Linked DNA regions of Homo sapiens: region 2 is linked to region 1. Evidence: fine-mapped expression QTL. Tissue or cell type: whole blood. Region 1 holds a variant in brackets; the other region holds the start of a gene. All regions are shown on one strand. Distances are between the middles of the regions.

What was found. PIP is the estimated chance that this variant, and not a neighbour inherited with it, causes the effect.
Region 2: it holds the start of NEXN, and the variant in region 1 is fine-mapped to the expression of NEXN in whole blood (INTERVAL, PIP above 0.99).

The regions. Positions count from the first base shown.
Region 1 is chr1:77,908,679-77,916,986 of GRCh38, forward strand. NEXN (nexilin F-actin binding protein) reads left to right here. Exons shown (of 13, transcript NM_144573.4): 2 at 7,377-7,455. The coding sequence starts at 7,429. Among named protein-coding and RNA genes, the nearest start is that of NEXN-AS1, 23 kb to the left of the region's middle. RefSeq lists a silencer at 615-768. The variant TTATA/T (reference allele first, on the strand shown) is at 3,061.
Region 2 is chr1:77,884,128-77,892,127 of GRCh38, forward strand. NEXN (nexilin F-actin binding protein) reads left to right here and starts at 4,497. Exons shown (of 13, transcript NM_144573.4): 1 at 4,497-4,632. NEXN-AS1 (NEXN antisense RNA 1) reads right to left here and starts at 5,412. Exons shown (of 3, transcript NR_103535.1): 1 at 5,341-5,412; 2 at 3,473-5,141. RefSeq lists an enhancer at 4,442-4,501 and a silencer at 4,742-4,881.

The DNA.
Region 1 (8,308 bases):
CATGAGCCACCACAATTGTGTAAGTAATACATTATATATGCTCACTGGCAGGGAAAGATAGGTTTTTTCCTAAATAGAGTAAATTCTAGTAGGGGAGATGAATAGTAATAAAATTAATCAAAGTTATTGATATCTACTAATGTTAGTTATTATTCCAGGGTTCTTCATATAATGCTCTCAGCTAATCCTAACTAAGCAGTTAACAGATTTGAAATTTGGATTTAGGTCTGATTACCAAATTTTGGTAATCTAAATGTGAGGTGATTGAAGGTCTGTATTAGTATGGAGGCCGTGGAAATATGAAGTAATATGTAAGAGAAGTTTGAAAGCAACATTCATAAATCTTGACAATCTATTAAAATCTAGGAGATATAGAAGAATGAATCAAAAATAACTGCAAGGTTTGAGAAGCCATGAGAATGAAGGGTAGGTTTTGTTGGTTATATAAGAAGAAATATCAGGCCAGGCATGGTGGCTCATGCCTGTAATCCCAAAACTTTGGGAGGCGAAGGCGGGTGGATCACTTGAAGTCAGGAGTTCAAGACCAGCCTAATCAACATGGTGAAACCCTGTCTCTACTAAAAATACAAAATTAGCTGGGCGTAGTGGGGCATGCCTGTAATCCCAGCTACTTGGGAGGCTGAGGCAGAAGAATCGCTTGAACCCGGGAGACAGAAGTTGCAATGAGCCAAGATCACACCATTGCACTCCAGCCTGGGCAACAAGGGCAAAACTTCATCTCAATAAATAAATAAATAAATAAATTAATAAAATATCTAACAGGTAACTTTAGATATGATATAATGGCTCAAGTAAGACAACAGGACTAGTGCTATTTATTATTTTTATCTCAGGCACATAAAATTAGGTTACTCATAAACCTTAGTTCATGACACACTCATGTATAGATGGATTCCTTTAATTTACTCCTTTATTTTTAATAATGTCATAAGCACCGACAGACCCACTAAACAAGAAAAGTTAGGATCTTATTAATAATTACAGGGAATCATGTCCCATCCTCTCCCCCATTATATTGTCTCCTTCCCATAAAGAAAACTTCAGTCCCACATGGCTTCACTGGGGAGTTCTTGCAAATATTTAGGGAAAAAATAATACTAAATCCTACATGAACTCTTCCAGAAAACTAAAGAAATAATTCCCAACTCATTCTATAAAGACAATATTACTCTGTTAATAAAAGCGGACATCACAAGAAAAGATAACTTACACAACCAATAATTTATCATAAATACAGATACAAAACTTAACAAAATTTTATCAAATTGATTCCAGCAATATATTAAGAGGATAATGCATTATAACCAATTGGGAATTATCCTAGGAATGTTAAGGTTGATTTAACACTTGAAAATCAGTTAATGTAACTCACAATATTAATAAATTAAAAATGAAAGCCATATGATTATCTCAATAGACACAGAAAAAGCATTAGATAAAATCCAACATCTGTTACTGATAATTACTCCAGTAAACTTAGTCTGATAAACGGCATCTAAGAAAAGCCTACAGCTAACATCTTACTTAACAGTGAAAGACTGGACATATTTCTCCTAAGATCAGGAACAAGACAAAGATATCTGCTCTTACCACTTCTATCTAACATTGTACTGGAGGTTCTAGCTAGTACAGTAAAGCCAGAAAAAGAAATGAAAGGCATCCAGACTGGAAAGGAAAAAGTAGAACTGTGCTCACCGATGATGTGATCATCTATGTATGTAGAAAATCTGATGGAATCTATGAAAAAGCCAATAGAACTAATAAGTTATTAGGCTGGGCTCGGTGGCTAACGCCTGTAATCCCAGCATTTTGGGAGGCCAAGGCAGGCGGATCACGAGGTCAGGACTTCGAGATCAGCCTGGCCAACATAGTGAAACCCTGTCTCTACTAAAAATACAAAAATTAGCTGGGTGTCGTCGGTCGCGCCTGTAGTCCCAGCTACTCGGGAGGCTGAGGCAGTAGAATCACTTGAACCCGAGAGGTGGAGGTTGCAGTGAGCTGAGACTGTGCCATTGCACTCCAGCCTGGGTGACAGAGTGAGACTGTCTCAAAAAAAAAAAAAAAAAAAAAAACTAATAAGTTATTTTAGCAGGGTTGCAAGATATAAAACCAGAATACAAAAACTGTATTTTTTAATTTTAATTTTTTTTCTTTTAGAAATAGGGACTCACTCTGTCACCCAGGCTGGAGTATGGTGATATGATCATAGCTTACAGTAACTTTGAGTTCCTGGGCTCAAGAGATCCTCCTGCCTCTGTTTCCCAAGTGGCCAAAACTACAGACACACACCACCAGGCCTGGCTAATTTTTAAATTTTTTGTAGAGATGGGGTCTACTATGTTGCCCAGGTTGTTCTTGAACTCCTGGCCTCAAGCAACCCCCCTGCCTCAGCCTTCCAAAGTGTTGGTTTGGATTAAAGGAATGAGATACAGCGCCTGGCCCCAAAATTATACTTCTGTATGCAGGTTGAATATCCCTAATCTGAAAATCTAAAATCCAAATGCTCCAAAATCTGAAACCTTTGGAGTACTGACATGACGTCACAAGTGGAAAATTCCACACTTGGCCTCATGTGACAGATCAGTCAAAACATAGTCAAAACTTTGCTTTGGCCGGGCAAAATGGCTCACGCCTGTAATCCCAACACTTTCAGAGGCCAAGACAGGTGGATTACCTGAGGTCAGGAGTTCGAGACCAGCCTGGCCAACATGGTGAAACCCTGTCTCTACTAAAAATACAAAAATTAGCCAGGCATAGTGGCGGACACCTGTAATCCCAGCTACTTGGGAGGCTGAGGCAGGAGAATCGCTTGAACCCAGGAGGTGGAGGTTGCAGTGAGCCGAGATTGCACCATTGCACTCCAGCCTGGGCGACAAGAGCAAGACTCCATCTCAAAAACAAAACAAAACAACTTTGCTTCATGCAAAAGTTATTTAAAATATTCTATAAAACTACCTTCAGGCTATATGTATAAGGTGTATATGGAACATAAATGAATTTCATGTTTAGACTTGGGTCCTATCCCCAAGATAGCCTGTT[TTATA/T]TATATATATATATATATACACATATATTCCAAAATCCAAAAAAGATCTGAAATCTGAGGCCAGGCACGGTGGCTCATGCTTGTAATCCCAGCACTTTGGGAGGCTGAGGCAGGCGGATCACAAGGCAGGAGTTGAGACCAGCCTGACCAACATGGTGAAACCCCGTCTCTACTAAAAATACAAAAATTAGCTGGATGTGGTGGCACGCACCTGTAGTCCCAGCTACTCAGGAGGCTGAGGCAGGAGAATTGCTTGAACCCGGGAGGCAGAGGTTGCAGTGAGCCGAGATTGCACCATTGCACTCCAGTCTGGGCGACAGAGTGAGACTCTGTCTCAAAAAAAAAAAAAAAAATCTGAAATCTGAAACATTTCTAGTCCCAAGCATTTCAGATAAGGGATACTCAACATGTACTAGCAACAATCATTAATTTAAATCTAAAAAACAACACCATTTACAGTAGTATAAACAACTATGAAATTATTTAGGGATAACTGACAAAAGATGTGGAAGATCTGCACATTGAAAACTACAAAACATTTCTGAGAAATTATAGAATATGTATATAATGGGGGGGACATACTGTGTTCATGGATCAGAAGACTTAACATTATTAAGATATTAATTCTCCCTAGATCCATCTACAGATTCAATGCAATCCCAATCAAAATCCCAGCATATTATTTTGTGGATATTGACAAACTGATTCTAAAGTTTATATGAAAAGGGAAAAGACTTGGAATAGCCAACACAGTGTTGAAGGAGAAGAACAAAGCTGGAGGACTAACACTACTCAACTTTAAGACATACTATAAACCTACAGTAATTGATACAGTGCAGTGTTGGTGAAATAATAAACAAAAAGATCAATGAAACCGAATAGAGAGCCCAGAAATAGATCCACGTAAATATAATCAACTGATCTTTGACAAAGGAGCAAAGGCAATAAAATAGAGAAAAGATTATTTTCAACAAATGGTGCTGGAACAACTGGACATCCACTTGCAAAAAACTGAATCTAGAAATAGACCTTACATTCTTCACAAAAATTAACTCAAAATGAATCACAGACTTACAGCATAGAACTATAAAACTCCTAGAAGAAAACATAGACAGAAATCTAGATGACCTCAGATTTGGAGTTCACTTTTTAGCTATGATACCAAAGTCACAATTCATGAAAGAAAGAATTGATAAGCTGGACTTCATTAAAATTAAAAAATTCTGTTCTGCAAAAGACACTGTGAAAAGAATTAAAAAATAAGCCATAGACTTGGAGAAAATATTTGCAAGTGACATATCAGATAAAGGACTGTTATCCAAAATACACAAAGAACTCTTACAACTCTGTAATAAGAATACAAACAACCCAATTAAAAAATGGACCAAAGGGCTGGGGACAGTGGCTCACGCCTGCAATCCCAGCACTTTGGGAGGCCGAGGTGGGCGGATCACCTGAGGTCAGGAGTTTGAGACCAGCCTGACCAATATAGCGAAACCCCATCTCTACTACAAATACAAAAATTAGCCGGGTGTGGTGGCAGGTGCCTGTAGTCCCAGCTGCTCGGGAGGCTGAGACAGGAGAATTGCTTGAACCCGGGAGGCGGAGGTTGCAGTGAGCCGAGATCATGCCACTGCTCTCTAGCCTGGGTGACAGTGCAAGACTCCATCTCAAAAAAAAAAAAATGGACCAAACAAAGATCTTAGGAGACATCTCACTGAAGAAGATACAGATGGCAAATAAACATATGAAAAGGTGCTTTAATATATTATTTAATATAATTCTAATTTAATATTTATTCATTTAATATATATTCAAGGAAATGCAAATAAAAATGACAATGAAATACCACTCCACATCTATTAGAATGGCCAAAATTCAGAACACTGACAACATCAAATGCAGGTGAGGATATGGAGCAATATGAACTCTCATTCATTGCTGGTGGGAATGCAAAGTGGTAAGCTACATGGTGGTTTCTTATAATACTAAATATGCTCTTACCATATAATCCAGTAATCATGGTCCACAAGAACCTGCATACAGATATTTATGTCAACTTTATTCATAAACACCAAAACTTGGAAACAACCAAGATGTCATTTGGTAGGTGAATGGATAAACTGTGGTACATGCAGGTAATAGAATATTATTCAGTGCTAAAAAGAAATGAGCTATCAAGCCATGAAAAACATAGAGGAAACTGAAATGCACATAACTATGTGAAAAAAGTCAATATGAAAAGGCTACATACTGTGTGGTTCCAACTGTATGACATTCTGGAAAAGTCAAAACTATGAAGACAGTAAAAAGATCATGGTTACCAGGAATTATGGGGGAGAAAAGCATAAGTAAGTGGAGTAAAGAGGACTTTTAGGTCAGTGAAACTGCTCTGTGCAATACTGTAATGATGGACACATGTCATTGTACATTTACCCAAAACCCACAGAATGTACAACTCAGGAGTAAACCCTAATGTAAACTATGGACTCTGGGTGATAATGATGTGTCAGTATAGGTTCATCATTTATAACAAATGTACCACTCCAATAGGTGGTAATAATGGGGTTATCCAGTGTTGATAATGGGGGTGACTAAGCATGTGCAGGGACAGAACATATACAGGAAATCTCTATCTTCTACTCAATTTTGCTGTGAACCTAAAATAAACTCTATTAAAAAAAAAGTTGGCTAGAAAATTCCAAAAGAAAAAAACAAAACAAGATAAAACAAACCTAAAATAAATATTTAAATGATAGGCCTAAACTCATTGATATTAATAATTACATTAAATGTTAATGAACTAAATGCTGCAATTAAAAAAACAGATTTTAGGCCTGGCACGGTGGCTCACGCCTGTAATCCCAGCACTTTGGGAGGCCTAGGTGGGTGGATCACAAGGTCAGGAGTTCGAGACCAGCCTAGCCAACATGGTGAAACCCCATCTCTACTAAAAATACAAAAATTAGCTGGGTGTGGTGGTGGGAGCCTGTAATCCCAGCTACTCAGGAGGCTGAGGCAGGAGAATCGCTTGAAACTGGAAGGCGGAGGTTGCAGTGAGCCGAGATCATGCCACTGCACTCCAGCCTGGGCAACAAGAGCGAAACTACGTCTCAAAAAAAAAAAAAAAGAAAACCCAGATTTTATCAGAATTGATTTTTGTAAAAAGCAAGGTCCAAACATATGCTGTGTCCAAGACATATGCTTTACATATAAAAACATAGATAGAGTGAAAGTAAATAGCTAGAAAATTATATACCATGCAAACTGTAAACCTAAGAAAGTTGGGGGCCAGATGCAGTGGCTCACGGATGCAATCCTAGCACTTCTGGAGGCCAAGGTGGGAGAGTTGCTTGAGCCCAGGGTTTCAAAACCAGTCTAAACAACACAGTGAGACCCCATTTCTATAGAGAAAAAAAAAAGAGCTGGGCATAGTGCTGCATGCCTGTAGTCCCAGCTACTTGGGAGGCTGAGGAAGGAGGATCGCTTGAGCCCAGGAGTTCAAGGGTACAGTGAACTGTCATTGTGCCACTGTACTTCAGCCTGGGTGACACAGCGAGATGCTGTCTCTAAAAAATAAATGTATAAATAAAAAGAAAGCTGGTGGCCGGGCATGGTGGCTCATGCCTGTAATCCCAGCACTTTGGGAGGCCGAGGCAGGCGGATCACGAGGTCAGGAGATTGAGACCATCCTGGCTAACACGGTGAAACCCCGTCTCTACTAAAAATACAAAAAATTAGCCGGACGTGGCGGCACACGCCTGTAGTCCCAGCTACTCGGGAGGCTGAAGTGGGAGAATGGTGTGAACCCGGGAGGCAGAGCTTGCAGTGAGCGAGATGGCGCCACTGCACTCCAGCCTGGGCGACAGAGTGAGATTTCATCTCAAAACAAAAACAAAAACAAAACAAAACAAAACAAGCAAACAAAAAACTACATAGTTGAAGATTGATAGAAATAGCCAAAAATTAGTAAAAATACAGATCTAAAACATGATCAACTACCTTCAGCTAGTTAATATTTATAGAGTAATACACTCAGTAATTGCTGAATACACATTCTTTTCAAGTGAACTTAGTATGTTCATCAAGCTATTCTGGATCAAAAACTTTCAGGGATCTTTTACCATCATGCACCTTATGTTTTCTATACCATGAATCTTGGGAAAAAGAGCTAAAGGTTATCACAATTTATTACTTGCTTGAATCATGTCAGTATTTTTTGAGGGGCAATTAACTGCTATTTCTATTTATAAAAATACATAATATATTACAAATAAATTAAAATTTATTATACAATATAAATTTTTTTCAGGTGCAAATATATACAGAGCTTCATAATCAGCCCAAGACCACATAGAGCAAACATGAATGATATTTCCCAAAAGGCTGAGGTAAGTCTCAAAAGTAAAAATAAAAATAAAAGAGGGAAATGTAGAGTTGACTGTAGAATTGCTGAAAGGACAGTCATTTGGTGGAAAGGTCATATTTAGGAGTTCATAATTAATAACATAATGGCAAGATGTAAAACAAGAAGAGATACAATTCACCAGCTGGTCTTGGGCTAGTATTTTCATTTGGGTTCTAGGAAATTCTACAAAGCATGAGTAGTAAATTTGTGAATGATAGTGAAGTGGATGTGATAGCTAGCATTCTGAGTAGAATTTTAAATATTTTGTTCTTGATAACTCTTAGAAATTATTATTTTAGTATTAAAACAAAGTTTGACCTATACTCATAGGAGAAAACATAATTCCCTCTTAGGTAAGGAACCTTTTTAGTGCCTTATATATATATTTTAATTTTTAGCTTTCTTCTGGTTCTTGACTGTAGATACTGAGAGTTGTAAGAAGAGCTCAGTTGCTGACACCTCAGAATTATAAAGTTAACCCTTAAATGGCCAATGACACATAATAGATTATAAAATACAAGTTGGATGTGCCACAAATTAATTAAGTAATTGTCATTATCACTAGGAAAAAGGATTTGGTGTTCTGAGGCACACATTTTATTTACTGAAATTTCATTTAGAAATCAGCTTAATTTTCAAAGTGGTGAAAATAATTTGCTCTTCTGGTTTTAGAGTGGAGGAAAATCATTTCTTCAGTCTTCTACCAGATTCCCATTCTTTGTGAAGCTGTTGCCATATGGAATTCCTCTTACAGCCCGCCCCCATATAGAATGATATAGCCTTCTTACACATTTTTAATGTGGCTTAAAGAAGTTATAGATGGGAAGTAATAGTAA
Region 2 (8,000 bases), 25 kb before region 1:
CTTACCACCCCTGCCTAAACCTCCTCTTCCCACAACCTTCCCTATCTGAGTAAATTACAACTCCATTCTTCCAGATCAAAGGCCCAAAACCTCCTTTCCTCACACCTCACATTCAGTTACAAAAAAAAAAAAAAAAAAAATCCTACCATTTCTACCTAAAAAGGCAACAAGGAAAAAAAAATATGCCAGGTATTTCTCACTACCTTCACAACTATCACTTTGGCCCAAATCCCCATTCCTCATTCCGATTATTGTGGAAGCCTCCTAATTAATTGATCTCCCTGCTTCTTCTCTTGCCTCATTTGGTGTATGTGCAGCACTTAAGCTAGAGAGAGTAAACATGTCAGATCATGTCACTATGTTGTTCAAAACCTACCAGAGACCACCCATGTTAGAGTAAAAACCAAAATCTTTACAATGCTGTACAAAAAGAGGCTGGGCACAATGGCTCATGCCTATTATCCCTACTCTCTGGGAGGCCGAAGTGGGAGGATGCTTAAGCCCAGGAGTTTGAGACCAACCCAGGCAACATAATAAGACCCCATTTCTACAAAAACTAAAAAATTAGCCAGGTGTGTTGTTGCATGCCTGTAGTCCCAGCTACTCAGAGAAGCTGTGGCAGGAGGATCGCTTGAGCCCAGAAGTTAGAGGCTGCGGTGAGCTGTGATTCCACCACTGCACTCCAGCCTGGGTCTCTAAAAAAAAAAAAAAAGGCCAGGCATGTTGGTTTACGCCTGTAATCCCAACACTTTAGGAGGCCGAGGTAGACGGATCACCTGAGGTCAGGAGTTTGAGACCAGCCTGGCCAATATGGTGAAACCCCATCTCTACTAAAAATACAGAAATTAGCCGGGCATGGTGACAGGTGCCTGTAATCCCAGCTACTCGGGAGTCTGAGGGAAGAGAATCGCTTGAACCCAGGAGGCGGAGGTTGCAGTGAGCAGAGTTTATGCTACTGCACTCCAGCCTGGGCGACAGAGCGAGACTTATTCTCAAACAAACAAAATCCTACGTAGTCTTGTCTCCTGCTCCCCACTGCACCTCCTATTACCTCACCCTTCACCTACTCAGCTTCACTCGCACAAGCCTCCTGGTTCTTCCTAGAACATGTCAGATAGAATCCTTCTCTGGGCCTTTGTATCTATCCCTGGACCACTCTTCCTCCAAATATTTGCTTCTCCAGATATTTACATAGCCTACTGCCTCACTCTCCTCAAGGCTTTTACTCATATGAGGCTTTCCTTAGCCACTCTATCTAAAATTACAACATCTACTCAGCCTGCCTCCAGCATTCTCTACTTCCCTGCTCTGGTATTATCCATATTGCCATATTACATGTCACTAAATACTACATAGTTCACTTATTTGCTTATTGTCTGCCTTCTTTCACTAGAATGTATGTTCCATAATGGCAGGGATTTTTCCTTTATCACTGCTGTATCCTTAGCATATAGAACTGAATATCTGTTGAATGAATGAATGATGAATTGGTGGGAAAATAAGCAGGCCTTGCATGCTGTGAGTAGCTATCAGTGTTCTACAGAGAGAATGGAGAGCTTTGTTTAATCTGGTGAATCTATTGGGTGGATATAAAAATAAAAAATTGTTAAGTTTCTAGTTATTTATTTATTTATTATTTTTTGAGACAGAGTCTCACTCTGTCGCCCAGACTGGAGTGCAGTGGCATGATCTCGGCTCACTGCAACCTCCACCTCCTGGTTTCAAGCAATTCTCCTGCCTCAGCCTCCCGAGTAGCTGGGACTACAGGTGCACGCTACCACACTCAGCTAATTTTTATATTTTTAGTAGAGACAGGATTTCGCCATGTTGGCCAGGCTGGTCTCGAACTCCTGACCTCAAGTGATCCACCCGCTTCAGCCTCCCAAAGTGCTGGGATTACAGGCGTGAGACACCATGCTCAGCCAACTCACTTCTTTAAATCACAGAAATAAATATGTAATTATAAATTGATATGTATAGGGGCAGGGCACAGTGGCTCACACCTGTAATCCCAGCACTTTGCGAGGCCGAGGTGGGTGGATCACTTGAGGGCAGGAGTTCAAGACCAGCCTGGCCAACATGGTGAAACCCCATCTCCACTAAAAATACAAAAAGTAGCCAGGTGTGGTGGCACGCGCCTGTAATCCCAGCTACTTTTGAGTCAGGAGAATCGATTGAACTGGGGAAGCGGAGGTTGCAGTGAGCTGAGATCGTGCCACTGCACTCCAGCCTGGGCGACGGAGCGAGACTACATCTCCAAATAAATAAATAAATAAATAAATAAATAAATAAATAAATAAGCAAATAAATAGGAATATATATATATAGGGAAGAGAAAGGTGGGATGAAAGGTGAGGTGCAAGGTGGGGAGAAAGGTGGGATGCAAGGAAGCCTTCTCCGAGGAAGCAGCATTTAAGAAGAGATCGGGAGGATATGTTGAAGTTAGGTGAAGGGGAAAGTGGGAGAAAGGATTTCATGCAGGGAACAACTTATACAAAGGCCCTGCAGCCAGACTGCCCATAGAAAGTTTCATGAACTGAAGAAGGCCAAGGTGATGGCATCAAAGAGAGCAAGGGCACAAGCAAGACTACCAAGACCACCTATCACTATCCGTAGTTCGGTACATTTAAATAATTTTAATTACCAATTTTGAACTTTTCTGTAATCGAGGAATGAATGGCTTACCCTCCTTAGAAAAGTTTCCATCCTGAGTAAATACTGTGGGGATGGGACTGGGGAACAGAGTTATATTTGAGTAGAAGGCCTTTTGTGTGTACGGGTGTGAGAGAGAGAGAAACAGAGAGAGAGAGGGAGTTTCACTCTTGTTGCTCACGCTGGAGTGCAATGGCGCCATCTCAGCTCACAGCAACCTCAGCCTCCCGGGTTCAAGCGAAGTGGGTTCTTCAACCTCAGCCTCCCAGGTAGCTGGGATCACAGGCGCACGTCACCACGCCCGGCTAATTTTTTGCATTTTTAGTAGAGATAGAGTTTCACCATGTTGGCCAGGCTGGTCGCAAACTCCTGACCTCAGGTGATCCACCCGCCTTGGCCTCCCAAAGTGCTGGGATTACAGGCAGGAGCCACCGCGCCCGGCCTTTTTTTTTTTTTTTGGAGACAGAGTCTCATTTTGTCACCCAGACTGGAGTGCAGTGGGATGATCTCTGCTCACTGCAACCTCCGCCTCCTGGCTTCAAGTGATTCTCCTGCCTCAGCCTCCTGAGTAACTCAGATTACAGGTGTGTGCCTCCACACTAGGCTAATTTTTTGTATTTTTAGTAAAGACGGCCTTTTGCCATGTTGGTCAGGCTGGTCTTGAATTCCTGACCTCAAGTGATCCACCCGCCTCGGCCTCCCAAAGTGCGGGGATCACAGGCATGAGCCACCGCGCCCAGCCCAGAAGGCCTTTTCAACATCCCTGAAATATAACCTGAGCACCGCTGTCTGCTTAGGGCCTGAAGGTGGAAGTGGTTACCTTTATTCTTTATCTGGATGTCATTTCGATTTTTTTTTCAAGTGCAGTGAAGAATTAAAGATCTCGTCCACCAAAAATACTCCGAGTGTGCATTTCGGGTTTTAATATGGTATTGTCTGATGGGTTTGACAGGCTGGCGGTCCAAGTTGAAAAAGGTCTGTGGGTGTCTAATAGTCAAAGATGCCTTTATGAAGCTTTAGAAAGACCAGATATGGTTTGCCTTCAATTAAGAAAAAGGTGGAATATAAAGATATTTGTACTTATATAAATATATTCCTTCTTTTCTTCTCCTCCTCCTCCTCTGCCTTCAACTTTCTTCTTCTTCTTCTTCTTCTTCTTCTTCTTCTTCTTCTTCTTCTTCTTCTTCTTCTTCTTCTTCTTCTTCTTCTTCTTCTTCTTCTTCTTCTTCTTTTTTAACTCTCCTTTTAGAGTTAAAGACTGGAGCTAAGAACAGGGGAGCAATAGACAGATGAAGTGTTCCCGGATTGCTGCCCCACGCTCTTTGTAATAAAGGAAAACTTGGCCAAAGGTCAATGCTTAGGGTAGTAGAAGATATGTAGTGGCTTGGCTTCTTGACTGGAAACTAGGACGGGTAGAGTAGCTGAGAGAAGTGGGCCCCAGAGCAAACTGGTTGCGGGTAGGGGGAGCCAGCTTCAGCCCGGTAATGAAGCCCATTTCAGCCTCATTCCTTTCCCATGGCGGAGGCAGCCTTCCTTCCCCAGGCCTGGCTGGAGGTGGAGGCAGGCCCAAAGTTAGGGGGTCAGCTCGCGCACCTAGGGCCGGGAGACAGACAAATTCTGGCGGAAAGTTGGCAGCCACGGTCCCCCTCCCCTGCTTTTCTCCTCAACTCTCCACCCCCACTCCGGGTGATAACGGCGGAGGTGGGGGGTTGGGGGAACTGGCCTTGTGTTTTGGAACAGCTGCAGCCGGCGCTGGGCCCGCCTGGAATGCGGGAACAGGCTGCACACCAGGACTTTTATGGAAACTTGCTGCTGGAGACGGCGGCGGCGGCGGCGGCAGCGGCAGCCAGAGGACTCCCAGCGGCTGGAGCAGAAGTGTTAGCGGCCAGAGCTCCCAGACCCCTACCCACAGCCAGGCGGGACGCGCACAGTCCCTCCACGCGGAAAGAAGTACCTTCGCCGGTCACCGGCTCCTGCAGGGTGAGAAGAGTTGGGGGAACGTGGGCTGGGGGGAGTGGAGACGGAGGTGTCGGGTCCCCTGGTGGGGGCGGGGGCGGGAACGGCGGCTGCAGAGAGGCGCTCGGGGTCTGCGGCTTCTGGCCGTGCTCCGCTGCAGCTCCGGAGGGCGCCGGGCGCCATACAGCTGTGGTCCGCGCTGGCCCCGGCCCGGGCGAACCCTGCCTTGGAGCCGCATCCTGCGGGCTCGGCGGGGTGCCTACCAGGGGCTGCCCCAGGGTCTGAAAGTGTCGGCCGGCCTTGGGCTTCTGGTTGCAATGTCTTTGCCCTGCTCCCCTGCGCCTTGTCGGCTGAGTTTCGGGTGCGTTCCCTACTGTAGGGAGGGAGCCCTCTGTGAGCGGAGTGGGTGCCGATCCCTCGGCTGAACCCTTGGGGTCCTTAGGGAAGTTCAGTGCCGTCCCCCACCACTTGCCCCAGCCGCGGTCTCCGTCTCTGCCAGCAGTGCCAGTTAAGAAATCCTTTCTGATCGGTCTCTGTGGAAGATGGGGAGAAATATGATTTAACAGCCTATTACTCCCCCCCCACACCCCCGCATATCCCCCCACTCCTGTCTCCAACCCTTTTTTTTTTTTTTTTCGTGATTCTGCCCGAGGTGGGATGCTGGGGGTTGAGCAACTAGGGCTGGAAGTTTACGAAGTTTACGTAGTTTAAGTGAGTGAAGAATGTAGTCACCTCTTGAGAACTCCCTTTGCCTATATGCTTTTGAAAACGCCAAACCATTCCAGCTGTTTGTAAATTGTGAAACGTTCTACAAATGCATTAGCATTGGCATTTATAAAGAAAATGACGAAGTTGAGAGGTTATAGTTGGTTACTGCAGTGACTTAGAGATGCTCATTTTATAGTTATTAAAGCACAACGTGAACCAAGTTGGCAGAGAGATAACAAGGTAAAAATAGCATAAGGATATGTCCTAACAAAATGTCCTTGGTGAAGACACAGGTAGAGAAAAGAAGCCATAATAAAGAAATTAGTTCCCTGACCAAAACAACGGGAATATCATTCATCGTTAAATTTTGTTAATGAATTCATGTAGCAGCGGCCCATTGGCCTTCGAGTCACAACATAACTATGTCTTAGGTAATGTGATTAAATAAACTTAAGTATTTATACTTAAGTTCATATCTTAGTCACACGTTATTTATATCTTAGTCACACGTTATTGAGTGGACCACATAATTTCCCCCGCTAAACATTATCCTTTACAGGTTAAACTGCTGCAGTTAGAAAACTTTGTCTCAAATTCTTTTGAGTTTGGGGTATTGTTAAGAAAAAATGCATAATTAATCAAATGAGAGAAAGGTTTTTTGGGGGGAGGTATAATTTGTATAAGTAAACTTTGATTAACCAATGTAGCTGTTTAAGTTTCTTCTTCCTTACAATTAACACCGTATTTTTGCAGATATTTTATATTTTGACTAATGCTTCTGAGGAACAATTTAAAGAAAAATGCATGCAATTATGTAGTTTATCTGCAATTCCCTTAAAGAATTCTAAGCTAAAACCACAACAAAATTATTTTAAATCCAGTTTTCCTCATCATAGTTACAATGTAATCCAGTTTTAATAAAAGATTCATATTTTAAAATCCATTTTCAATTGAAATGTAATGAATAGCAATTGTTCCTGCTCACCTTAAAATGGAATTTGTGCTATTTTTGAAAATTTGACATGTAAGGCTGATCATTGTCAAAATGTATGTCATCTTGAGATGACTATATTTAGCATCAACAAAGGAATGCATTATCTAGGTTTTTGAACAGTCTTTTTCCCCTGAAATTTCACTTGAAGTATTTAGGTTAGGGTTTCATTTTTGAGCAGAATAAAAACTAAATATGCATATTTGGAAGACATTAATTGGGGATTCAGATTGCTTAGAATCTGAGCGGCCTATAATGACATACTTCATTTATTAAAAAAAATACCTGTTATCTTTGAAATACCCTAAAAGACAAAAAAAAGGGGGATTATTTAAATATGAGAGTTGTGCACACCTAAAAGAAAGAAAATAATGCAGTGAATGTGGAAAAGTATGTAACAGACAGGTAAAAGTCTAAACGTTTTTATAGAAGAGAGGACTGTTATTTTATAGTTATGTAGGCCACACACACACAGAACATCTTGGTAGTTTATAATTTGGAGAGAAAATGATTTATAACATTCTTAACAATTTCACATATTTCTGTTCTTATTTAATCAATCTGCGGTCCATATCACCTGTGTAGTTTCTTTCATGTTCTCTTTCTGGGTTTATAATTGCATAGTTACATATTATATACATTTGAAATGGCTACATTTTCCTTTATTATTTAAATATTCAGTGTATAGTTTGGCTTAATTTATAGTAGTTTACTTTCTATACTCCAGGGTGGGTGGATTTGTACCCAGAAATCCACCTTAAATTTTAGTTTAATTTGTATTATAATGTTAATACACCATGTTATATTTATGGTTAAAAATTATGGAGAATGGAAAAAGGGGCTCTTGTAATCTGACACTCTTACTGTTAGGATTTTGATGTATTTCCTTTAAGTCTTTTTCCCATGCATAGAACTCTTTCTTTTTGCATTGACATATCTCAATAAAACAACATGTGAAAGCATCCCATGCAGTGTCTGCCATCCAGTAAGTGCTCAACAGGTGATTCTTTTTCTTCCTCCTTTATTTCCTTCTTGACATCTCTTCCTTTTTACTCTTAGATTAGAAGACAAGCAGATTGGGGCTCCCTATATGAGGTTTCAAGGTTGGTGAAATTCACTTCTCACCGTCCATCCTGGGCCTCTTCCCTGTCTTTTCTTCCCCTTCACTCTTTCTGGCCAAAATAGGCCTCCCCTTTGACCCTTTCCATTTTGTCAGTGTTGTCTATTCATTTAGACTAAGGCTATGGCAGTCAAAAAGTCGACAGTCAAAAAGACACCTTTTACTTCCTGATTACCAAGTGTGGAAAAAAAGTAAAAAAAAAAAAAAAAAAAAAAATCAAAAACAAAAAAGACACTTTTGGGGCTGGGTGTGGTGGCTCATGCCTGTAATCCAAGCACTTTGGGAGGCTGAGGCGAGAGGATCCCTTGAGCCCAGGAGTTCAGGACCAGGCCTGGCAACATAGTGAGACCCACCCCCATCTCTACAAAAAATTTAAAAATTAGCCAGATGTGGTGGTGCATGCCTGTAGTCCCAACTACCTGGGAGGCCGAGGCAGGAGGATTGCTTGAGCTCAGGAGGCTGAGGCTGCAGTGCACCGTGCTTGTACCACTGCACTCCAGCCTAAGCAACAGAGTGAGGCTCTGTGTCAAAAAAAAAAAAGACACTTTTAGCCACAGACATACTTAAAAATTG